Linked DNA regions of Homo sapiens. The protein of the gene in region 1 purifies or fractionates together with the protein of each later gene. This does not show direct contact. Each region holds a gene or a part of one and is shown in the gene's direction. Other genes may lie near its edges. The genes, in order: YTHDC2, ZCRB1, PIP5K1A and CRY1.

The links.
Region 2: the proteins of YTHDC2 (region 1) and ZCRB1 purify together in Homo sapiens (co-immunoprecipitation; one large-scale study listed by IntAct). This does not show direct contact.
Region 3: the proteins of YTHDC2 (region 1) and PIP5K1A purify together in Homo sapiens (co-immunoprecipitation; one large-scale study listed by IntAct). This does not show direct contact.
Region 4: the proteins of YTHDC2 (region 1) and CRY1 purify together in Homo sapiens (co-immunoprecipitation; one large-scale study listed by IntAct). This does not show direct contact.

The regions. Positions count from the first base shown.
Region 1 is NC_000005.10:113,568,266-113,574,350, forward strand, and holds part of YTHDC2 (3'-5' RNA helicase YTHDC2), read left to right. Parts: intron 1-6,085. UniProt on the Homo sapiens protein: 3'-5' RNA helicase that plays a key role in the male and female germline by promoting transition from mitotic to meiotic divisions in stem cells.
Region 2 is NC_000012.12:42,310,166-42,315,005, reverse strand, and holds the end of ZCRB1 (zinc finger CCHC-type and RNA-binding motif-containing protein 1), read left to right. Parts: intron 1-1,019; coding exon 1,020-1,132; intron 1,133-1,240; coding exon 1,241-1,316; intron 1,317-1,807; coding exon 1,808-1,939; 3' UTR 1,940-2,920; downstream 2,921-4,840.
Region 3 is NC_000001.11:151,231,447-151,237,531, forward strand, and holds part of PIP5K1A (phosphatidylinositol 4-phosphate 5-kinase type-1 alpha), read left to right. Parts: intron 1-224; coding exon 225-355; intron 356-801; coding exon 802-919; intron 920-1,104; coding exon 1,105-1,257; intron 1,258-2,750; coding exon 2,751-3,050; intron 3,051-5,111; coding exon 5,112-5,317; intron 5,318-6,085. UniProt on the Homo sapiens protein: Catalyzes the phosphorylation of phosphatidylinositol 4-phosphate (PtdIns(4)P/PI4P) to form phosphatidylinositol 4,5-bisphosphate (PtdIns(4,5)P2/PIP2), a lipid second messenger that regulates several cellular processes such as signal transduction, vesicle trafficking, actin cytoskeleton dynamics, cell adhesion, and cell motility.
Region 4 is NC_000012.12:107,082,014-107,088,098, reverse strand, and holds part of CRY1 (cryptochrome-1), read left to right. Parts: intron 1-6,085.

The DNA.
Region 1 (6,085 bases):
TTATTTTCATTACAGAGATATCAAAAATATTTTTAGTATTTTATATTAATGACTGCAAAATAGTATATCACATTGAAGTGGCATAATGCATTTTTTTCCTTCAACTTTTATTTTAAGTTCAGGGGTACATGTGCAAGATGTGCAGTTTTGTTGCATAGGTAAAGGTGTGCCATGGTGGTTTGCTGCACAGATCATGACATCATGTATCTATCAAGCCCAGTGTCCATTAGCTATTCTTCCTGATGTTCTCCCTACCCTCTACCACACACCCCCAGTAGGCCCCAGTGTGTGTTGTTCCCCTGTCTGTGTCCATGTGTTCTCATCATTCAGCTCCCACTTATAAGTGAGAACATGCGGTGTTTGGTTTTCCATTCCTGCATTAGTTTGCTGAGGATAATGGCTTCCAACTTCAGCCATGTCCCTGCAAAGGACATGATCTAATTCCTTTTTATGGCTGCATAGTATCCCATGGTGTATATGTACCATATTTTCTTTATCTAGCCTACCATTGATGGGCATTTGGGTTGATTCCATGTCTTTACTATTGTGAATAATGCTGCACTGAACATACAAATGTACTTATCTTTATAATAGAATGATTTATATTCCTTTGGGTATTTACCCAGAAATGGTATTTCTGCCTCCAGGTCTTTGAAGAATCACCATGCTGTCTCCCATGGTGGTTGAATTAATTTACACTAGTGTAATTTAATTACACAGTAGTGTAAAAGTGTTCCTTTTTCTCTACAACCTCACCAGCATGTTGTTTTTTGACTTTTTAATAATAGCAATTCTGATCTCATTGTGGTTTTGAATTGCATTCCAGTAATGATCAGTGACGTTGAGCTTTTTTTCATATGTTTGTTGGCCACATGTACATCTTTTGAAAAGTGTCTGTTCGTGTCCTTTGCCCACTTTTTAATGGGTTGTTTTTTCTTGTAAATTTGCTTAAGTTCCTTGTATACTCTGGATATTAGACCTTTGTCAGATGGATAGATTGCAAAAATTTTCTCCCATTCTGTAGGTTGTCTGTTTCCTCTGATGATAGTTGTTTCTTTTGCTGTGCAGAAACTTTAGTTTAATTAGATCCCATTTGTCAATTTTTGCTTTTGCTGCAATTGCTTTTGGCGTTTTTATCATGAAATCTTTGCCTGTGCCTATGTCCTGAATGGTATTGCCTAGATTTTCTTCGAGGGTTTTTATGGTTTAGAGTTTTACATTTAAGTCTTTAATCCATCTTGAGTTAATTTTTGTCGAAGGTGTTAGGAAGGGGCCCAGTTTCAGTTTTCTGCATATAGCTAACCAGTTCTTTCAGCACCATTTGTTAAATAAGGAGTCCTTTCCTCATTGCTTGTTTTTGTCAGGTTTGTTAAAAATCAGACGGTTGTAAGTGTGTGGTCTTATTTCTGAGTTCTCTATTCTGTTCCATCATTCTATGTGTTTGTTCTTATACCAGTACCATGCTGTCTTGGCTACTGTAGCCCTGTAGTATAGCTTGAAGTCGGGTAGCGTGATGCCTCAGCTTTGTTCTTTTTGCTTAGGATTGTCTTGGCTATATGGTCTCTTTTGGTTCCATAAGAATTTTGAAATCGTTTCTTCTAAGTCTGTGAAGACTGTCAGTATAATGGGAATAGCATTGAATCTGTAAATTTCTCTGGGCAGTATGGCCATTTTCATGATATTGATTGTTCCTATCCATGAGCATGGAACGTTTTTCCATTTGTTTATGTCCTCTCTGATTTCTTTGAGCAGTGATACGTAGTTCTCCTTGAAGAGGTCCTTCACTTCCCTTATTAGCTGTATTCCTAGGTATTTTATTTTACTTTATTTTATTTTATTTCATTTTTTTGAGATGGAGTCTTGCTCTGTCACCCAGGCTGGAGTGCAGTGGCACAATCTCAGCTCACTGTAACCTCCGCCTCCTGGGTTCAAGCAATTCTCCTGCCTGAGACTCCTGAGTAGCTGGGATTACAGGCACGCACCACAATTCCTGGCTAATTTTTGTATTTTTACTAGAGACAGGGTCTCACCATGTTGGGCAGGGTGATCTTGAACTCCAGACCTCAAGGTGATCCATCTGCCTGCCTTGGCCTCCCAAAGTGCTGCAATTACAGGCGTGAGCTATCATGCTTGGCCTTTTCCTATGTATTTTATTTTTGTTGCAATTGTGAATGTGAATTCATTCATGATTTGGCTCTCTGCTTGCCTGTTGTTGGTATATAGGAATGCTAGCAATTTTTGCACATTGATTTTATATCCTGAGACTTTGCTGAAGTTGCTTATCAGCTTAAGAAGCTTTTGGACTGAGATAATGGGTTTTCTAGATGTAGATCATATCAACTACAAACAAAGATAATTTGACTTCCTCTTTTCCTATTTGAATACTCTTTATTTCTTTATTTTGAGATGGAGTCTCACTTTGCCGCCCAGGTTGGAGTGCAGCGGTGTGATCTCAGCTCACTGCAACCTCCGCCTTCTGGGTTCAAGCAATTCTGCTGCCTCAGCCTCCGGAGTAGCTGGGATTACAGACGTCTGCCACCATACTCCACTAATTTTTTTTGTATTTTTAGTAGATTTGGCATTTCACCATGTTGGCCAGGCAGGTCTCAAACTCCTGACTTCAAGTGATCTACCACCTCGGCCTCCCAATGTGCTGGGATTATAGGCATGAGCCACTGCACCCACCCGACGTGAATACTCTTCATTTTTTTCTCTGGCCTGATTTCCTTGGCCTGAACTTCCAATCCTATGTTGAATAAGAGTGATGAGAGAGGACATCCTTGTACTGTGACAGTTTTCAAGGAGAATGCTTCCTGCTTTTGCCCATTCAGTATGATACTGGCTGTGGGTTTGTCATAAATAGCTCTTATTATTTTGAGATATGTTCCTTTACTACCTAGTTTATTGAGTTTTTAACACGAAGACATGTTGAATTTTATTGAAGGCCTTTTCTGCATCTATTGAGATAATCATTTGGTTTTTGTCTTTAGATCTGTTTATGTGATGAATTATGTTTATTGATTTGCATATGTTGAACCAGCCTTGCATCCCAGGGATGAAGCCAACTTGATTGTGGTGGACAAGCATTTAGATGTGCTGCTGTATTTGGTTTGCCCATATTTTATTGAGAATTTTTGCACTGATATTCATCAGGGATATTGGCCTGAAGTTTTCTTTTTTGTTGTATCTCTGTCAGGCTTTGGTATCAGTATGATGCTGGTCTTACAGTATGAGTTATGGAGGAGTCCCTCCTTTTCAGTTGTTTGGAATAGTTTCAAAAGAAAGGGTATCAGCTCTTCTATGTACTTCTGGTAGAATTCAGCTGTAAATCCATCTGGTTGGGCTTTTTTGGTTGGTAGGCTCTTTATTACTGCCTCAATTTCCAAACTTGTTATTGGTCTATTCAGGGATTCAGCTTCTTTCTGGTTCAGTCTCAGGAGTATGTATGTGTCCAGGAATCTACCTCTTTCTTCTAGATTTTCTAGTTTATTTGCATAGAGGTGTTTATAGTATCCTTTGATGGTAGTTTGTATTCCCATGGGGTCAGTGGTGAGATCCCTTGTATCATTTTTATTGTGTCTATTTGATTCTTCTCTCTTTTCTTCTTTATTAATCTAGCTAGCAGTCTGTTTTATTGATTTTTAAAAAGAACCAGCTTTTTGATTTGCTGATTTTTTTGGAGGGTTTTTCCTGTCTCTATCGCCTTCACTTCTGCTCTGATATTAGTTATTTCATGTCTTCTGCTAGCTTGGGTTTGTTTTCTCTTTGTTCTCTAATTTTTTAAATTGAGATGTTAGGTGGTTAACTTGAAATCTTTCTAGCTTTCTGATGTGTTCATTTAGTGCTATGAATTTCCGTCTTAACACTACTTTAGCTGTGTCCCAGAGATTGTGGTACATTGTCTCTTTGTTCTCATTACTTTCAAATAACTTCTTGATTTCTGCCTTAATTTTGTTATTTACCCAAGAGTCATTCAGGAGCAGGTTGTTCAGTTTCCATGTAGTTGTGTGGTATTGAGTGAATGTCTTAGTCTTGAGTTCTAATTTGATTGTGCTGTGGTCTGATAGACTGTTATGATTTTACTTCTTTTACATTTACTGAGGAGTGTTTTACTTCCAGTTATGTGATCAATTTTAGAATAAATGCCATGTGGCGATGAGAAGAATGTATATTCTCTTGTTTTTGGGTAGAGAGTTCTGTAGATATCTATCAGGTCCACTTGATCCAGAGCTGAGTTCAGGTCCTGAATATCTTTGTTAATTTTCTGTCTTGATGATCTGTCTAATGTTGTCTGTGGGGTGTTAAAGTCTCCCACTATTATTGTATGGGAGTCTAAATCTCTTTGTAGGTCTCTAAGAACTTGTTTAATGAATCTGGGTGCTCCTGTATTAGCTTGCATATATATTTAGGATCATGAGTTCTTTTTGTTGAATTGAGCCCTTTACCACTGTGTAATGCCTTTCTTTGATCTTTATGGTTTAAAGTCTGTTTTATCAGAAACTAGGATTGCAACCACTGCCTTTTTCTGTTTTCCATTTGCTTGGTAAATTTTCCTCCATCCCTTTCTTTTGAGCCTATGTGTGGCTTTGCATGTGAGATGGGTCTTTTGAAGACAGCATACTCGTGGGTCTTGGCTCTTTATCCAGTTTGCCATTCTGTGCCTTTCACTTGGGACATTTACCCCATTTACCTTCAATATTACTTTTATGGTTATGTATTGTTATGTGTGAATTTGATTCTGTCATGATGCTAGCTGGTTATTTTGCAGACTTGTTTATGTGGTTGCTTCATAGTGTTACTGGTTTGTGTACTTCCGTGTGTTTTTGTAGTGGCTGGTAATGGATTTTTCCCTTTCATATTTAGTGCTTCCTTCAGGAGCTCTTGCAAGGCAGGCCTGGTGGTGACATATTCCCTCAGCATTTGCTTGTCTGAAAAGGATCTTATTTCTCCTTCACTTATAAAGCTCAGTTTGGCTGGATATGAAATTCTGGGTTGGAAATTCTTTTCTTTAAGAGTGTTGAATATTGGCCCCCAATCTCTTCTGGCTTGTAGGGTTTCCTCTTAGAGGTCTACTGTTAGTCTGATGGGCTTCCCTTTGTATGTAACCTGGCCTTTCTCTCTGGCTGCCCTTAACATTTTTTCTTTCCTTTAGACCTTGGAGAATCTGATGATTTTTTTGTCTTGGGGTTGATCTTCTCATGGAGTATTATACTAGGGTTCTCTGGATTTCCTGAATTTGAATGTTGGCCTGTCTTGCTAGGTTAGGGAAGTTCTGGATGATATCCTGAAGTATGTTTTCCAGCTTGGTTCTATTCTCTTTTATCTTTCAGCTACCCCAGTCAGTTATAGGTTCAGCCTCTTTATATAATCCCATATTTCTTGGAGGTTTTGTTCATTTCTTTTTTCATTCTTTTTTCTCTATTCTTGTCTGCCTGTTTTATGTCAGAAAGACGGTCTTCAAGCTCTGAGATTCTATTCTCTGCTTGGTCTGTGCTTCTGTTGATACTTGTGATTGCATTGTGAAGTTCTCCTGTTGTGTTTTTCAGCTCCGTTAGGTCGGTTATGTTCTTCTCTAAACTGGCTATTAGCTCCCGTATTGTTTTATCATGATTCTTAGCTTTTTTGCATTGGGTTACAATATGCTTCTTTAGCTCAGCGAAGTTTGTTATTACCCACCTTCTGAAGCCTACTTCTGTCATTTTAGCCATCTCAGCCTCAGCCCAGTTCTGTGCCCTTGCTAGAGAGGTATCACAATCATTTGGAGGAGAAGAGGCACTCTGGCTTTTTGAGTTTTCAGCATCTTTGCATTATTTCTCACCTTTGCGGGCTTATCTACCTTTGATCTTTGAGGATGCTGACCTTTGAATGAGGTTTTTGTGGAGTCTTTTCTGTTGATGTTGTTGTTGTTTTCTGTTTGTTTTTCTTTTAGAGTCAGGCCAGTCTTCCATAGGGCTGCTGCGGTTTGCTGGGGCTCCCCACCAGACCTCAGTTGCCTCAGTTTTTCCTGTACCTGGAGGTATCACCAGTGAAGTCTGCAAAACAGCAAAGATGGAAGCCAGCTCCTTCCTCTGGAAGTTCTGTCCTG
Region 2 (4,840 bases), on another chromosome or scaffold:
GGAAAAGTGAGGAAGAAATTTTCCATTTGTTTTTTGGTTTTTTGTTTGTTTTTTGAGACAGGGTCTTGCTCTGTTGCCTAGGCTGGAGTGCGGTGGCACAATCTCAGCTCACTGCAGTCTCTGCCTCCCGCGTTCGATCAATTCTTGTGCCTCAGTCTCCTGAGTAGCTGGGATTACAGGCATATGCCACCAAGCCCAGCTAATTTTTGTATATTTAGTAGAGACAGGGTTTCCCCATGTTGGCCAGGCGGGTCTTGAACTCACTTCCTAAGGTGACCCACCTGCCTCAGCCTGCCCAGCCCAACAGAGTATTAAGCAACATCTTGGAAATTAACAGGAATAGTTTTATCCTCGTTTTATCAATAACTTAAGATGTTTACATTTAGGGTAAATGATCCATTTAAATTTTGATTTTTTTTTTTTGAGACGGAGTTTTGCTCTTGTCACCCAGGCTGGAGTGCAACGGAATGATCTCAGCTCACTGCAACCTCCACCTCCTGGGTTTAAGCAATTCTCCTACCTCAGCCTCCTGAGTAGCTGGGACTACAGGTGTGTGCCACTTATGCCCAACTAATTTTTTTTTTTTTTTTTTTTTTTTTTTTTTTTTTAGTAGAGACGGGATTTCACCATTTTGGTTAGTCTGGTCTCAAACTCCAGACCTCAGGTGATCCACCCACCTCGGCTTCCCAAAGTGCTAGGATTACAGGCGTGAGCCACCGCGCCCGACCAAACTGTTTTATATCTTGAATTTTGAGATTTAAATGTTTGAAAGAAGACTACTACCACTACTCTTAGTAAAACTACTAAATAGTCCTAAATGTTAAAATAACTGAGAGTTATAATATCACCTTCTAAATATTAAAGTACTGGGTTTTATCATTAATGTCTTCTGTATAGTCCCAGTATGGGAATATTCCTTTTTAAATTTGAAAACTTTTTAGTAATAAGGTACCAGGCAAGTTTTTATAAATAACATCAAATATGGTATTTTTCCTTTCCTTTTTAATGGGAAACAAAAGGAAAGTGGACACTTAAGTTATGCCTGTCCGAAAAATATGCTCGGAGAACGTGAGCCTCCAAAGAAGAAAGAAAAAAAGAAAAAAAAGAAAGCTCCTGAACCAGAAGAAGAAATGTATGTATATTATTCTTACTAAATACATCATCATGTTGCTTTTGTCTTTTGGTTGGTTGCTTTTGATTATTGGTTGGTTACATTCCAATTTGTTTTTCTTTATTTAAGTGAGGAAGTAGAAGAAAGTGAAGATGAAGGGGAGGATCCTGCTCTTGACAGCCTCAGTCAGGCCATAGCATTCCAGGTATTAAATTGTTCTTTTAAAAGGCATCATACAATAGTTGACTTGGTTTATAGTGCTTGCTTACTTCATTGATCACCTCATGGCAACCTCTCTTTTTCCCCCTAACCTCCTAAGCCTTAGGAGACAAGCTGTTTCTCTGAGGTACTTAGCCAGTGTGAATGAAAAGTTCCCATTGGTTCTTCCTAGATTTTAAGGGCCCCACAACACTTACTATCTTAATCTTTTTTCATTAAAGAAATGAGCAGAACTATTTGCTCAAAGTGAATATAGCCCAACAGAAAAGATTTTTTTAAGAAATTGCCTAGGATAATTTTGTGTAAGATTTTGAGATGAGACAGAACTCAGGGGAAGGGAGCAGATCTTATTGTCTGCATGGACTGGGAGGGTGGGAAGTAATGGCATTTGTGGTATGTTTTTGCCATGTTTTGAATTAATGAACCATAAATAATATTAAACAGGTTATTGGTTTTGTTTTGTTTTTTGAATCACAGCAAGCCAAAATTGAAGAAGAACAAAAAAAATGGAAACCCAGTTCAGGAGTCCCCTCAACATCAGATGATTCAAGACGCCCAAGGATAAAGAAAAGCACATATTTCAGTGATGAGGAAGAACTTAGTGATTAAAATCTTGCCCCAGCACAGTAATAAAAATCAAGATTTGTTAGTAACAATCTTGAAGAGCTAATTTTAATAAAAATAAGAAAAATTAATACTATCATGTTAATACTATTATTGTCATCCCAAGAAAAAAGATATTTTAAAAATTTATTTGAAAAGTTCATTATAAGGGCTTTATTCATGCCTGATTTGTTTACATGAGGACTTCTGAAATTAATCCTTAAAACAAACTTCCTGAAGACCGAAAAGTTGAATGATTTATTGTTACTTATATTAATAAACTTTTCAAGAGAATTTTGTCTTTAAATATGGGTGTTTTGTCATCATATTTCTTGTAGCTTTATCCCAATCTGGATAAATTGTAAATACCTATAAAATAAATTATAAATACCTATAAAATATAAAGTAACATAGCTCTAAAAGGCTTAAAATCAAACACAGGTGTTATTTGTCTGCCCTACCCATAGCACCAAATTCCATTCCCTAGAAGAAACTACTTACATGTGCACACATGTAGCTAAATAAAGTACATATATTTCAGTCACTTAATAAAAGAATAAAGGAGAATTATTCAATCTCTTATACTTCTCCTACCTTCCTCAATATTCCCAATGTGGCTGTATTAAAAATTTGGGGGAATCCATATATATCTTTTTTAATAACCAAGTAAATACTTTTCATTTCTGAGCCAAGGAATATGCTATGATTACGTTTTTTCCTAGAGTTAATAATTGTCTATTTTTTTTCCATGTATTGTCTTTGTATTTATGACTAAATCTTCCCATTCTGTCTGCAGGTGGGTATATGGTAATGGGATTAGAGAGCCTTTAATTTTCTGCTTTGTATATTTCTATATTGTTTAACTTTGTAAGAATGCCCATTACTTTTTTAACTAGTAAAAGCAATAGAAATAAGTTAATACTATCATAGTAATATTATTATTGTCATCCCAAGAAAAAATATATTAAAAAGATATTTGAAATTTCATTATAAAATCTTGTGTTTCCACTTTGAAAACTACAAAGTGTTAACCACCCACCAGCAAAGAATCTTCCAGATTGCAACAAGACAATGATTGAATGCAGTACTCAACCATCTGTTTGGCCATTAGTCAAATACCACAACAGTTTTGGTTTGTTTTTTTTTTTTAATTTTTATTCATTTATTTATTTTTGAAACGAAGTCTCACTCTGTCGTCCAGGCTGGAGTACAGTGGTGCGATCTCAGCTCACTGCAACCTCCACCTCCCCGGTTCAGACCATTTTCCTGCCTCAGCCTCCTAAGTAGCTGGGATTACAGGCACGTGCCACCACACCCAGCTAATTTTTGTATTTTTTTAGTAGAGTTGGGGGTTTCACCATGTTGGTCAGGCTAGTCTCAAACTCCTGACCTTGTGATCCACCCGCCTCGGCCTCCCAAAGTGCTGGGATTACAGGCATGAGCCACTGTGCCCGGCCTACCATTTTAAAGCAAATAATTGGGAAAAGATTTGCCACAAATATATAAAAGTTTCTATGAATACCTGAAAACAGACTCTAATAGGAAATAAATTAGTGACAAATAGAATAGTTAGAAGATAAAATAGGCCAGGTGTAGTGGCTCATACCTGTAATCCCAACACGTTGGGAGGTCAAGACAGGAGGAGTGTTCGAGGCCAGGAGTTTGAGCCCAGCCTGGGGAACATAAGGAGACTGTCTTTACAAAAAATAACATTAGCCACTCACACCTGTTGTCCTAGCTACTTGGGAGGCTGAGGCGGGACAGCCTGGGAAACAGCATGATCCTGTCTTTAAAAAAAAAAAGTAAAAAAGTTTATCATTACTTATTAAGGAAATCTATTACAACCAGTGATACATCAATTTTAACCTAATTAGGAAAAAAACACTTCAGTGTTGGTGAGGATGGCATTAAAAGCACTTGTGGTATCGCATACATGCCCTGGATCAATTCTGAAGGGTAATTTAACAATAAATATCAAATGTTAAGTATGTTCTATTTTTTTAACTAGAAATTACATTCTATTTTATCCTAGGGTTCTAATCAGAAATGCAGGTATTTATTTATGTACAAACATATTATTTAAAATTCAAAACAATTGTCAGCCGGGCACGGTGGCTCACACCTGTAATCCCAGCATTTTGGGAGGCCAGGGCAGGTGAATCACTTGAGGCCAGGAGTTCGAGACCAGCCTGGCCAACATGGTGAAACCCCATCTGTACTAAAAATGCAAAAATTAGCAAGCCATGGTGACACATGCCTGTAATTCCAGCTACTCAGGAGACTGAGGCACAAGAATCGCTGGAACCAGGGAGGCAGAGGCTGCAGTGAGCCCAGATCGCACCACTGCACTCCAGCCCTGGGTGACAGAGTGAGACTCTGTCTCAAAAAAAGAAAAAAAGAAAAAGAATTGTCAACAGCAAATTAAAGCATGATGCATTCACAATAATAGATTATTAGGAAGCATTAAAATGTTTCAAAGAATTTTTAATTGTATGAGAAAACATTCCAGATACAATGTCAAGTGTAAAACACTTGCTATATATGGATACATATCTGCATATGGAAGGGGGAAATGCTCACTGCTAAAGTAGCAGTGCAGAATGGTTAAGAGTATGCTCTTTTTTTTGACAGATACACTTAGGTTTCTATGGCCATATTGCCACTTAAAGCTGCTGATCGTAGACGATTTACTTAACCTGAGTTATATGAAAACTAAGAAGGTTAAAGCAACACAGAAGGACAAATATTGTATGATACCACTTACATGAGGCACCTGGAATAGGCAACGTGAAATTCATAGAGACAGAAAATAGAGGTTACCAGGGTCTGAAGGGAGGTAGAAAGGGGGGCTATTTATTTAATGCATAGTTTCTGTTTCAGTTGATGAGAAGTTCTGGAAATGGCTAG
Region 3 (6,085 bases), on another chromosome or scaffold:
TTTGCTACTCTGTATCCTCACTGTCCTTCCAATCTTTACTAAGCTTAATTGCAGAGTACAGCATAGGGATGGGGAAACTGGATTGTCCCAGTTTTATCTGAACTATTGCTCAGACTAAAGGATGTTTGTTTTAAAGTGTTCCTTCTAGCTTCCCCTTTCTGAATTTTTATTGTTATGATCCTACTTATACTAGGAATTTTCTTCTCATTTCTCTTGTTTCTCAGACAACCTCATCAGCCTTGAAAGGTGCCATCCAGTTAGGCATTACCCACACTGTGGGGAGCCTGAGTACCAAACCAGAGCGTGATGTCCTCATGCAAGATTTCTACGTGGTTGAGAGTATCTTCTTTCCCAGGTACAGAGTTTAATGTTCAGGAGCATGTCCTGGAAATGTGGCCTTTTCAAATCAGCCCAGGGCAGTTTTAGGGGTTCAGGTCGGACAATTTAGACATGTGTCCATTTCTTAACCTGGTTACAATCAGGGCGATGTGGGACTAGAGAGTTCGGAGAGCAGATACTGTCCTCTAGATGCTTCCATTAGCCTCTGTCCTATGGATTGACCCGTAAAAAACAACCTAATGCATTGGATAGGAGGCAGTGTGATTTCTTCTTCTTCTTATGTCTTGCTGTCCATGCTGTGCCATTGTCTCACTAACTCATCTAAGAAGGGCTGTGATTATCTTAGGAGGAATGTATTCCCCCACTCCCCCCACCATGAGGTGACTCTGAGTGTCTTCGCAAGGTAGATTCTCTGGATGATAGGGACTGGCAAGTTATGGCTACCTCTGTTTAACCCCACAGTGAAGGGAGCAACCTGACCCCTGCTCATCACTACAATGACTTTCGTTTCAAGACCTATGCACCTGTTGCCTTCCGCTACTTCCGGGAGCTATTTGGTATCCGGCCCGATGATTACTTGGTAAGCATCTGGATATCAGGACACTGTGACTCCAGTATCAGAGGGATATTCCCAAAGGAAGGCCCCTTTTCTCCACAGTCTCGCTCTGGTTTTTATTTAGAAAAGAATTGCATCTGTAGTTGATTTTTGTGTTGGGCAAGGCCCTGATGTGTCTAAATCTCTTAGTTCTTCTCTGTTTGCCCCAGTATTCCCTCTGCAGTGAGCCGCTGATTGAACTCTGTAGCTCTGGAGCTAGTGGTTCCCTATTCTATGTGTCCAGCGACGATGAGTTCATTATTAAGACAGTCCAACATAAAGAGGCGGAATTTCTGCAGAAGCTGCTTCCAGGATACTACATGGTAAGGGAGAGAGAAGCACTGTCCACCTGTGCTGCTCACTTCTGGGCAAGGCTGGGGAGGCTGTCTTCAGCAGGGTAAAACAGTGTCAGCACTTCTATCTTAAGAGTGTAGTTCAGGCCAGGCACGGTGGCTCATGCCTGTAATCCCAGGACTTTGGGAGGCCGAGGCAAGAGGATCACAAGATCAGGAGATCAAGACCATCCTGGCCAACATGGTGAAACCTCGTCTTTACTAAAAATACAAAAAATTAGCCAGGCGTGGTAGCGGGCGCCTGTAGTCCCAGCTACTCAGGAGGCTGAGACAGGAGAATGGCGTGAATCTGGGAGGCGAAGTTTGCAGTGAGCCGAGATCCTGCCACTGCACTCCAGCCTGGGTAACAGAGCAAGACTCCGTCTCAAAAAAAAAAAAAAAAAAATGTTGTTCAGTTTTGTGCTTTTCACCCCATTTCTTTTGCCTCTCTATGGTAAAAGGGGTTTTGTTTATCTGTTCTGTTTTAAGTGTTGTTGATCTCCCAGGCTCAAGTGATCCTCCCACCTCAGCCTCTCACGTAGTTGGGACTAAAGGCACGCACCACCACACCTGGCTAATTTTTATAAACTTATTTTCTTTTATTTTTTCGTGACGGAGTCTCGCTTTGTTGTCCAAGCTGGAGTACAGTTGCACAATCTCGGCTCACTGCAACCTCCGCCTCCCAGGTTCAAGCAATTCTCCTGCCTCAGCCTCCTGAGTAGCTGGGATTACAGGCATGCGCCACCATGCCAAGCTAATTTTTTATTTTTTAGTAGAGATGGAGTTTCACCATGTTGGTCAGGCTGGTCTTGAACTCCTGACCTCATGATCCGCCTGCCTTGGCCTCCCAAAGTGCTGGGATTACAGGCGTGAGCCACCGTGCCCGGCCTAATTTTTATAAATTTTTAGTAGAGATGAGGTCTTGCTATGTTACCCAGGCTGGTCTCAAATTCCTGAGCTCAAGTGATCCTCCTGTTTGGCCTCCCAAAGTGCTGGGGTTACAGGCATGAGCCACTGCACCTGGCTATTTTCGTCTTCTGTTCTTAGTTCAGCTTCTAGTTTGGGGAATGAGGTAGGTTATTTCCCTTGGTAATACTCTCTGCAGCCTTACTCTGATTGCTATTGGAGGTTCTGGAGAAGTTAGGTAACTCTCCTTACCTGCCTTACCATCCCCAAGAATATACTATACCCAGGGCAGAGAGTGTCGTCTTCTCTTAAATCTCTCTGAAGAAATATATCCATCTTATATTGGTATCCTGGCTGATTTCTGTATTGGAGAGTCTGTGGCACAGCTTGATGGTGAACTTACCATTGAAATAGATGCATAGGGAAATGTAAAGCATATATGATGTAGGTTTATGGACACATTGTGTCTAAATCTCATATAGGAGATAAAGGGAGGATGGGTGGTAACTTTTACTGGTGAGTTTCACTGAAAATCAGCTAAGTTGTTCTCCTACTTCTGTTTCCTTTTGTGTTCTCAGAACCTCAACCAGAACCCTCGGACTTTGCTGCCTAAATTCTATGGACTGTACTGTGTGCAGGCAGGTGGCAAGAACATTCGGATTGTGGTGATGAACAATCTTTTACCAAGATCGGTAAAAATGCATATCAAATATGACCTCAAAGGCTCAACCTACAAACGGCGGGCTTCCCAGAAAGAGCGAGAGAAGCCTCTTCCCACATTTAAAGACCTAGACTTCTTACAAGACATCCCTGATGGTCTTTTTTTGGATGCTGACATGTACAACGCTCTCTGTAAGACCCTGCAGCGTGACTGTTTGGTGAGTTTGTTACTTAGACATCAAAAATCTCAGTTACTAAAACAGCTTGATTGTTCTTAGGCATTAAGTTTGTGGGAGATGGAACTCTGTTCCTTAGCACTGTATGTCCTGGGCTGTATTTAAAATAAGTCTTAATTAGTTCATTGCCATTCCTTTACATTTTTACTTTCTCCCCGTTTATCCTCCCACAATGGGATTTATTTCCTTCTCTAGCTAGCCTGGGCCTCACAGTCAAATGTTCTGCTTATTTTCATACCAACATCATCCTTCCTCAGATTTTGGTCCTGGCTGCCAAATCCAAATTTATATTTTGGAAGCTGAGTGCTGCTGAAGAATATTACACAACCGTGTATACTGGCATCTACAGAATTATGATATCCAACCCCACTTGGGCTTTCAATATCGATCTTCAGTCCATTTGCTGTTGCTCTCAATAGGGATTTCAGATGTTTGGCATTCTAATCAAACCATTTTCTGACTCTCATCTCCCTAGCTTTGTTTCTCAACAAGCTACCTTAACTTTTTATCCTATTTCATCCTCTCATGCTGCCCCTGTCACCAATGGATAAATGTATCTACATTTTACTTTATTTTTTATTTTTTGAGATGGAGTTTCACTCTTGTCACCCAGGCTGGAGTGCAATGGCACGATCTCGGCTCACTGCAATTTCCACCTCCCAGATTCAAGCGATTCTCCTGCCTCAGCCTCCCAAGTAGCTGGGATTACAGGCGCCCATCACCACGCCTGGGTCGTTTTTGTATTTTTAGTAGTGACAGGGTTTCACCACGTTGGTCCCGCTGGTTTCAAACTCCTGACCTCAAATGATCTGCCTGCCTTGGCCTCCCAAAGTGCTAGGATTACAGGTGTGAGCCACCGCACCCGGCCTAGATATCACTCTTGACCTCTGTACTCTTCTGTCATGTGAACACTTCCCACTGTTGCACATATTAAACTGTATTGTGTTTATTTTACATTTGTATCCCTTTCTAAATGTATAATGTCCTTGAAGACAGAAACTCTCTCTTTAATATCTTTATATCTCTGTAAGGAGGCACAGTGCCTACATGGTGGAGATTCAGTAAATGTTTAACTGAATTGAAGCTAGTCATACAAGGTCCTACCACAGATCTGTTCTGTCACAAAGTGTACTTTACCAGAACCTCATTGTGGAATCTTCACAGCACAAATATGTATTCCTTGTTCTTTTGAGAAGGTAGTGTTCTCTTCATGGAGACATACATGGAAAGAACAAAGATGGTCTTGTGGGCTAGGCAGTGGGACTTGGAAAAATTATATTAACTCAAATGAGAGAAAGCTAAGGGTATGTAAATAAAGACTAACCAGGCCGGGCGTGGTGGCTCACGCCTGTAATCCCAGCACTTTGGGAGGCTGAGGCAGGCAGATCACCAGGTCAGGCGTTCGAGACCAGCCTGGCCAACATGGTGAAACCCCAACTCTACTAAAAATACAAAAATTAGCTGGGTGTGGTGGCACGTGCCTGTAATCCCAGCTACTTGGGAGGCTGAGGCAGGAAAATCGCTTGAACCAGGGAGTTGGAGGTTGCAGTGAGCCAAGATCGCGCCACTGTACTCCAGCCTGGCGACAAAGCAAGACTCCGTCTCAAAAAAAAAAAAAAAAAAATTTAGCCTTACAGGTTCACTGTAAGGCTAAATTAAATAATTACATCATGAAAGCTGTCAAGCCAGGCGTGGTGGCTCATACCAATAGTCCCAGCACTTTGGAAGACTGAGATAGGCAGATCCCTTGAGCCCAGAAATTAGAGACCAGCTGGGCAGCATGGTGAAACCGTCTCTATGAAAAATAAAAAATTAGGCAGGTGTAGTGGTGTGTGCCTGTAGTCCCAGCTACTTGGGAGGCTGAAGTAGGTGGATATTTTGAGCCTGGGAGGTTGCAGCTACAGTGAGCCGAGATCACACCACTGCACTCTAGCCTGGGTTACAGATTGATACCCTTTCTCAAAAAAACAAAAAAATTGTGAGATCCTGAAAAATATTTTTATTTCTTCCAAGGCTCAGATCATGTTTTTTTCCTTCCATTAGGTGCTGCAGAGCTTCAAGATAATGGATTACAGCCTCTTGATGTCAATCCATAATATAGATCATGCACAACGAGAGCCCTTAAGCAGTGAAACACAGTACTCAGTTGATACTCGAAGACCGGCCCCCCAAAAGGCTCTGTATTCCACAGCCATGGAATCCATCCAGGGAGAGGCTCGACGGGGTGGTACCATGGAGACTGATGACCAGTAAGTGGGCTCAGGGCCACTAGGGGGGAGAACATAGGCCCACAGCACTTTTCTTTTCTTTTTTTTTTTTTTTTTTTTTTAGTTTCACTCTTGTTGCCCAGGCTGATGTGCTGATGTGCAATGGCACGATCTCAGCCTACTACTACCTCCACCTCCTGGGTTCAAGCGATTCTCCTGCTTCAGCCTCCTGAGTAGCTGTGACTACAGGCACCTGCCACCACACCCAGCTAATTTTTTGTATTTTTAGTAGAGAAGGGGTTTCATCATGTTGGGCAAACTAGTCTACGAACTCCTGACCTCAGGTGATCCACCCGCCTTGGCCTCCCGTAGTGCAGGGATTACAGGCGTGAGCCACCGTGCCCGGCCACAGCACTTTTTCTTTAGGAAGGGACCCAGCTTCTGGAAAGGAGTAGCCTTGACTCAGCAGTTGGATCAGTAACATTATTGTTGACAGAAGTATAGAATGAGCTTGAACGAGCTTTCTTAATACAAAATGAAAAGAAGATTAATTTCGGGTTTATAGTATATGTGGGAAGGAGAGCTGTTCAAGAGTTAAAGACTTAAAAAATTATAGTCTTAAATGCATGTCTGCAAATTATATTAGAACTTTATTAGGGCTGGGCACAGTGGCTCATGCCAGTAATCCCAACACTTTGGAAGGCTGAGGCAGGCGGATCACTTGAGTCCAGGAGTTTGAGATCAGCCTGAGCATCATGATGAGACCTCATCACTACAAAAACTCAAAAATTACCTGAGTGTGATGGTGAG
Region 4 (6,085 bases), on another chromosome or scaffold:
TCCACTTCTAGCCCCCCAAATATCTTGTCTTATTTATTTATTATTTTTATTTTTATTTTTGAGACGGGGTATCACTCTGTTGCCCAGGCTGGAGTGCAGAGGCGTGATCATGGCTCACTGTAGCCTCAACCACCTGGGCTCAAGCAGTTGTCCCACCTCAGCCTCCCAAGTAGCTGGGACCACAGGCATGCATTACCATGGCCAGGTAATTTTTTTTATTACTTGTAGAGGTGAGATCTCACTAAGCTGTCTCATACTCCCGGGCTAAAGCAATTCTCCTGCCTCAGCCTCTGAAAGTGCTGGGATTATAGGTGTAAGCCACCATGCCCACCCTCTTTTTTCTATTGTAAGATATAATCATCTCTTTCAAAGTCCCCAGAAATCTTAACTAGTTTCAACATCAACTCAAAGTCTAAAATCTTATCCGAGACTCAAGGCAGATTCCTTATAGCTATGAACCTGTAAGATCAAAAACAAGTTATCTACTTTTAAGATACAATGGTGGAACAGACATTGGGTAAATATTTTCATTTTAAAAGGGACAAATTGACCAACAAAAAGGGACCCACCCAAGTCTGAAACCTACAAGGGCAGACATTAAATCTTAAAGCTGTAAAATAATCTCGCTTGACTCTTGTCCCATAACTGAGCACACTGGTCCAAGAGGTGGGCTCTTGAAGCCTTGGGCAGCCCCATCTCTATGGCTTGGTTGGGCACAGACCACATGGCTTCTTTCATGGATTGGAGTCTAATGTCTGTCACTTCTCCAGGCTGAGGGTGTGTGCTGTTTTCATCCAAAGGATTCTTTTAATCTTTCCACTTCCTCACTTTCCACTCCCTCCCACATCCTGAGCACACTGGTCCAAGAGGTGAGCTCTCAAAACCTTGGGCAGCTGCATCTCTATGGCTTGGTTGGGCATAGCCCACATGGCTGCTCTCATGGATTGGAGTCTAATGTCTGTCACTTTTCCAGGCTGAGGGTGTATGCTGTTTACATCCAAAGGATACTTTTAATCTTTCCACTCCCTGACTTTTCTTTTCCTTTTCTTTTTTTCTTTTCTCTTTTCTTTTCCTTTCTTTCTTTTTCTTTCTTTCTTTGTTTCTTTCTTTTTCTTTTTCTTAACAGTATTTAACACATTTGACCACACCTTTCTCTTCTTCTCTTGGCTTTAGTTAGACTGCCACCACTGTGGGTCCTGGAGGGCAGTGCCCCTGTTCCCGCTGCTCTACAGTGAGTTCTCTGTGGGGACTGTAACCCCATATTTCCCCTTGGCACCAGCCTAGTAGAATCTCTCTGTAGGAGCTCTGCTGTGGCAGGCTTCTGCCTGGACAGCCAGACTTCTTGACATATCTTGTGAAATCTAGGTGGAAGCTGCCAAACCTCCATGGATCTTGTATTCTGTATACCTGCAGACTTAACACCACTTGGAAACCATCAAGGCCTATGGTTTGCACCCACTGGAGTGGCAGTCCAGACAGTACCTGGGGCCTTTTGAGCCCTGGCTGCAGCCAGAGCAGCCAGAACGTGGGGAGTAGCATCTCAAGACCGCACAAGGCAGCAACACCCTGGGCCTGGCCTCCCAAACCATTTTGCCCGAGGAGGCCTCTGAGCCTGTGATGGAAGGGGTAGCCTTGATTTCTGGAATGTCTTGGGGGCTTTTCCCCATTGTCTTGACTGTTAACAACTGGCTCTCTTTTATTCATGTTAATTGCTTTAACAACCTGTTCTGTCAGGGCCTGGTACCTGGGGCTAGGTAGTTTGGATTTCTCTCCTGAAAACTTCCCTCTACCACATGGTTAGGTTGTAAATTTTTCAAATTTGTATGCTCTGTTTTTCTCTTAATTATTAGCTTTAACTTTGTCTTTTTTTTGAACTCCCATATCTGATAGTAGGCTGTTAGAAGCAGCCATGTCACCTTTTGAACGCTTTGTTGTTTAGAAACTTTTTTTTGCCAGGTAGCTTAAGTCATTACTCTTAAGTTCAGCCTTTTACAAAGTCCTAGGCATGGATACAATGTAGCCAAGTTTTTTGTTAACAAGCATAACATATAATGTGGCCATTTTTTTGTTTTAGTTTTTAAAAATTTTATTTGAGATCTCATGAACGTGGCCTTTACTGTCTATATTTTAATCAGCATTTTTATCACAACCTCTTAACCAGTCTCTAAAAAGTTTTAAAGTTTTTCTTGTGTATGAGGTTTTTTGTTTTTGTTTTGTTTTGTTTTGAGTTCTCTAAGCTCTTGTAAGCAGCTTTAGTTTTTGCTTTTTTTTTAATACTTTAAGTTCTGGGATACATGTACAGAACCTGCAGGTTTGTTACGTAGGTATACATGTGCCATGGTGGTTTTGCTGCACCCATCAACCTGTCATCTAGGTTTTAAGCCCCACATGCATTAGGTATTTGTCCTAATGGTCTCCATCCCCTTGCCCCTCAACCCCTGGCAGGCCCCGGTATGTGCTGTTCCCCTCCCCGTGTCCATGTGTTCTCATTGTTCAACTCCTACTTATGGAGAACATGCGATGTTTGGTTTTCTGTTCCTATGTTAGTTTGCTGAGAATGATGCTTTCCAGCTTCATCCATGTCCCTGCAAAGGACATGAACTCATTCTTTTTTATGGCTGCTTCATATTCCACAGTGTATATGTGCCAGATTTTCTTTATCCAGTCTATCATTGATGGGCATTTGGGTTGGTTCCAAGTCTTTGCTATTGTGAACAGTGCCACAATAAACATACATGTGCCTGTGTCATTATAGTAGAATGATTTATAATCCTTTGGGTATATACCCAGTAATGGGATTGCTGGGTCAAATGATATTTCTGTTTGTAGATCCTTGAGGAATCACCACACTGTCTTCCATAATGGTTGACCTAATTTACACTCCCACCAACAGTGTAAAAGCGTTCCTATTTCTTCACATCCTCTCCAGCATCTGTTGTTTCCTGACTTTTAATAATCGCTGTTCTAACTGGCATGAAATGGTATCTCATTGTGGTTTTGATTTGCATTTCTCTAATGACCAGTGATGATGAGCTTTTTTTTCATGTTTTTTGGCCACATAAATGTCTTTTGAGAAGTGTCTGTTCATATCCTTCACCCACTTTTTGATGGGTTTTTTTTTTTTTGTAAATTTGTTTAAGTTCCTTGTAGATTTTAGATATTAGACCTTTGTCAGATGGATAGATTGCAAAAATTTTCTCCCATTCTATAGGTTGTCTGTTCACTCTGATGATGGTTTCTTTCACTGTGCAGAAACTCTTTAGTTTAATTAGATCCCATTTGTCAAGTTTGGCTTTTGTTGCCATTGCTTTTGGTGTTTTAGTCATGAAGTCTTTGCCCATGCCTATGTCCTGAATGGTATTGCCTAGGTTTTCTTCTAGGGTTTTTATGGTTTTAGGTTTTACATGTAAGTCTTTAATTCGTCTTGAGTGAATTTTTGTATACAGTGTAAGGAAGGGGTCCAGTTTCAGTTTTCTGCATATGGCTAGCCAGTTTTCCCAGCACCATTTATTAAATAGGGAATCCTTTCCCCATTTCTTGTTTTTGTCAAGATCAGATGGTTGTAGGTGTGTGGTGTTATTTCTGAGGCCTCTGTTCTGTTCCACTGGTCTATGTATCTGTTTTGGTACCAGTACCATGCTATTTTGGTTACTGTAGCCTTGTAGTATAGTTTGAAGTCAGGTAGCATGATGCTTCCAGCTTTGTTCTTTTTGCTTAGGATTGTCTTGGCTATACAGGCTCTTTTTTTGGTTCCATATGAAATTTAAAGTAGTTGTTTCTAGTTCTGTGAAGAAAGTCAATGGTAACTTGATGGGAATAGCATTGAATCTATTAATTACTTTGGGCAGTATGGCCATTTTCATGATGCTGATTCTTCCTATCCATGAGCATGGAATGTTTTTCCATTTGTTTGTGTCCTCTCTTATTTCTTTGAGCAGTGGTTTGTAGTTCTCCTTGAAGAGGTCCTTCACATCCCTTGTAAGTTGGATTCCTAGGTATTTTATTTTCTTTGTAGCAGTTGTGAATGGGAGTTCATTCGTGACTTGACTCTCTATTATTGGTGTATAGGAATGCTTGTGATTTTTGCTGATTGATTTTGTATCCCGAGACTTTGCTGAAGTTGCTTATCAGCTTAAGGAGTTTTGGGGCTGAGGCAATGGAATTTTCTAAATATACAATCATGTCATCTGCAAACAAAGACAATTTGACTTTCTTTCTATTTGAATACCCTTTATTTCTTTCTCTTGCCTGATTGCCCTGGCCAGAATTTCCAATACTATGTTGAATAGGAGTGGTGAGAGAGGGCATCCTTGTTTTGTGCCAGTTTTCAATGGGAATGCTTCCAGCTTTTGCCCATTCAGTATGATATTGGCTATGGGTTTGTCATAAATAGCTCTTATTATTCTGAGTAACGTTCCATCAATACCTAGTTTATTGAGAGTTTTTAGCATGAAGCGGTGTTGAATTTTGTCCAAGGCCTTTTCTGCATCTATTGAGATAATTGTGTGGTTTTTGTCATTGGTTCTGTTTATATGATGGATTACATTTATTGATTTGCATATGGTGAACCAGCCTTACATCCCAGGGATGAAGCTGCCTTGATCGTGTGGATAAGCTTTTTGATGTGCTGCTAGATTCGGTTTGCCAGTATTTTATTGAGTATTTTCATATTGATGTTCATTGGGGATATTGACCTGAAATTTTCTTTTTTTGTTGTGTCTGCCAGGTTTTGGTATCAGAATGATGTTGGCCTCATATAAAATGAGTTAGGGAGCAGTCCGTCTTTTTCTTTTGTTTGGAATAATTTCAGAAGGAATGGTACCAGCTCCTCTTTGTACCTCTGGTAGAATTTGGCTGTGAATCCATCTAGTCCTGGGCTTTTTTTGGTTGGTAGGCTACTAATTACTGCCTCAATTTCAGAACTTGTTATTGGTGTATTCAGGGATGTGACTTCTTCCTGGTTTAGTCTTGGGAGAGTGTATGTGTCCAGGAATTTATCCATTTCTTCTAGATTTTTTAGTTTATTTGCATAGAGGTGTTTATAGTATTCTCTGATAGTAGTTTGTACTTCTGAGGGATCAGTGGTGATATCCCTTTATCATTTTTTATTGTGTCTATCTGATTCTTCTCTCTTTTATTTATTAGTCTGTCTAGCAGTCTATCAATTTTGTTAATCTTTTCAAAAAACCAGCTCCTGGATTCATTGATTTTTTTGAAGGGTTTTTCGTGTCTCTGTCTCCTTCAGTTTTGCTCCGATCTTAGTTATTTCTTGTCTTCTGCTAGCTTTTGAATTTGTTTGCTTTTGCTTCTGTAGTTCTTTTAATTGTGATGTTAGGGTGTCGATTTTAGATCTTTCTTGCTTTCTGATATGGACATTTAGTGCTATAAATTTCCCTCTTAACACTGCTTTAGCTGTGTCCCAGAGATTCTGGTATGTTATCTCTTTGTTCTCATTGGTGTCAAAGAACTTACTTACTTCTGCCTTAATTTCTTTATTTACCCAGTAGTCACTCAGGAGCAGATTGTTCAGTTTCCATGTAGTTGTGTGGTTTTGAGTGAGTTTCTTAATCCTGAATTCGAATTTGATTGCACTGTGGTCTGAGAGACTGTTTGTTATGATTTCCGTTATTTGCATTTGCTGAGGAGTGTTTTACTTCCAATTATTGGTCAATTTTAGAATAAGTGCTATGTGGTGTGAGAAGAATGTATATTCTGTTGATTTGGGGTAGAGAGTTCTGTAGATGTCTACTAGGTCTGCTTGGTCCGGAGTTGAGTTCAAGTCCTGAATATCCTTCTTAATTTTCTGTCTCATTGATCTAATATTGACAGTGGGGTGTTAAAGTCTCCCACTATTATTGTGTGGGAGTCTAAGTCTCTTTGTAGGTCTCCGAGAACTTGCTTTATGAATCTGGGTGCTCTTGTTTTGGGTGCATATATATATTTAAGATAATTTGCTCTTCTTGTTACATTGATCCATTTACCATTGTGTAATGCCCTTCTTTGTCTTTTTTTATCTTTTTTGGTTTAAAGTCTGTTTTATCAGAGACTAGGATTGCAACCCCTAAGCAGCTTTAGTTTTAAAGCT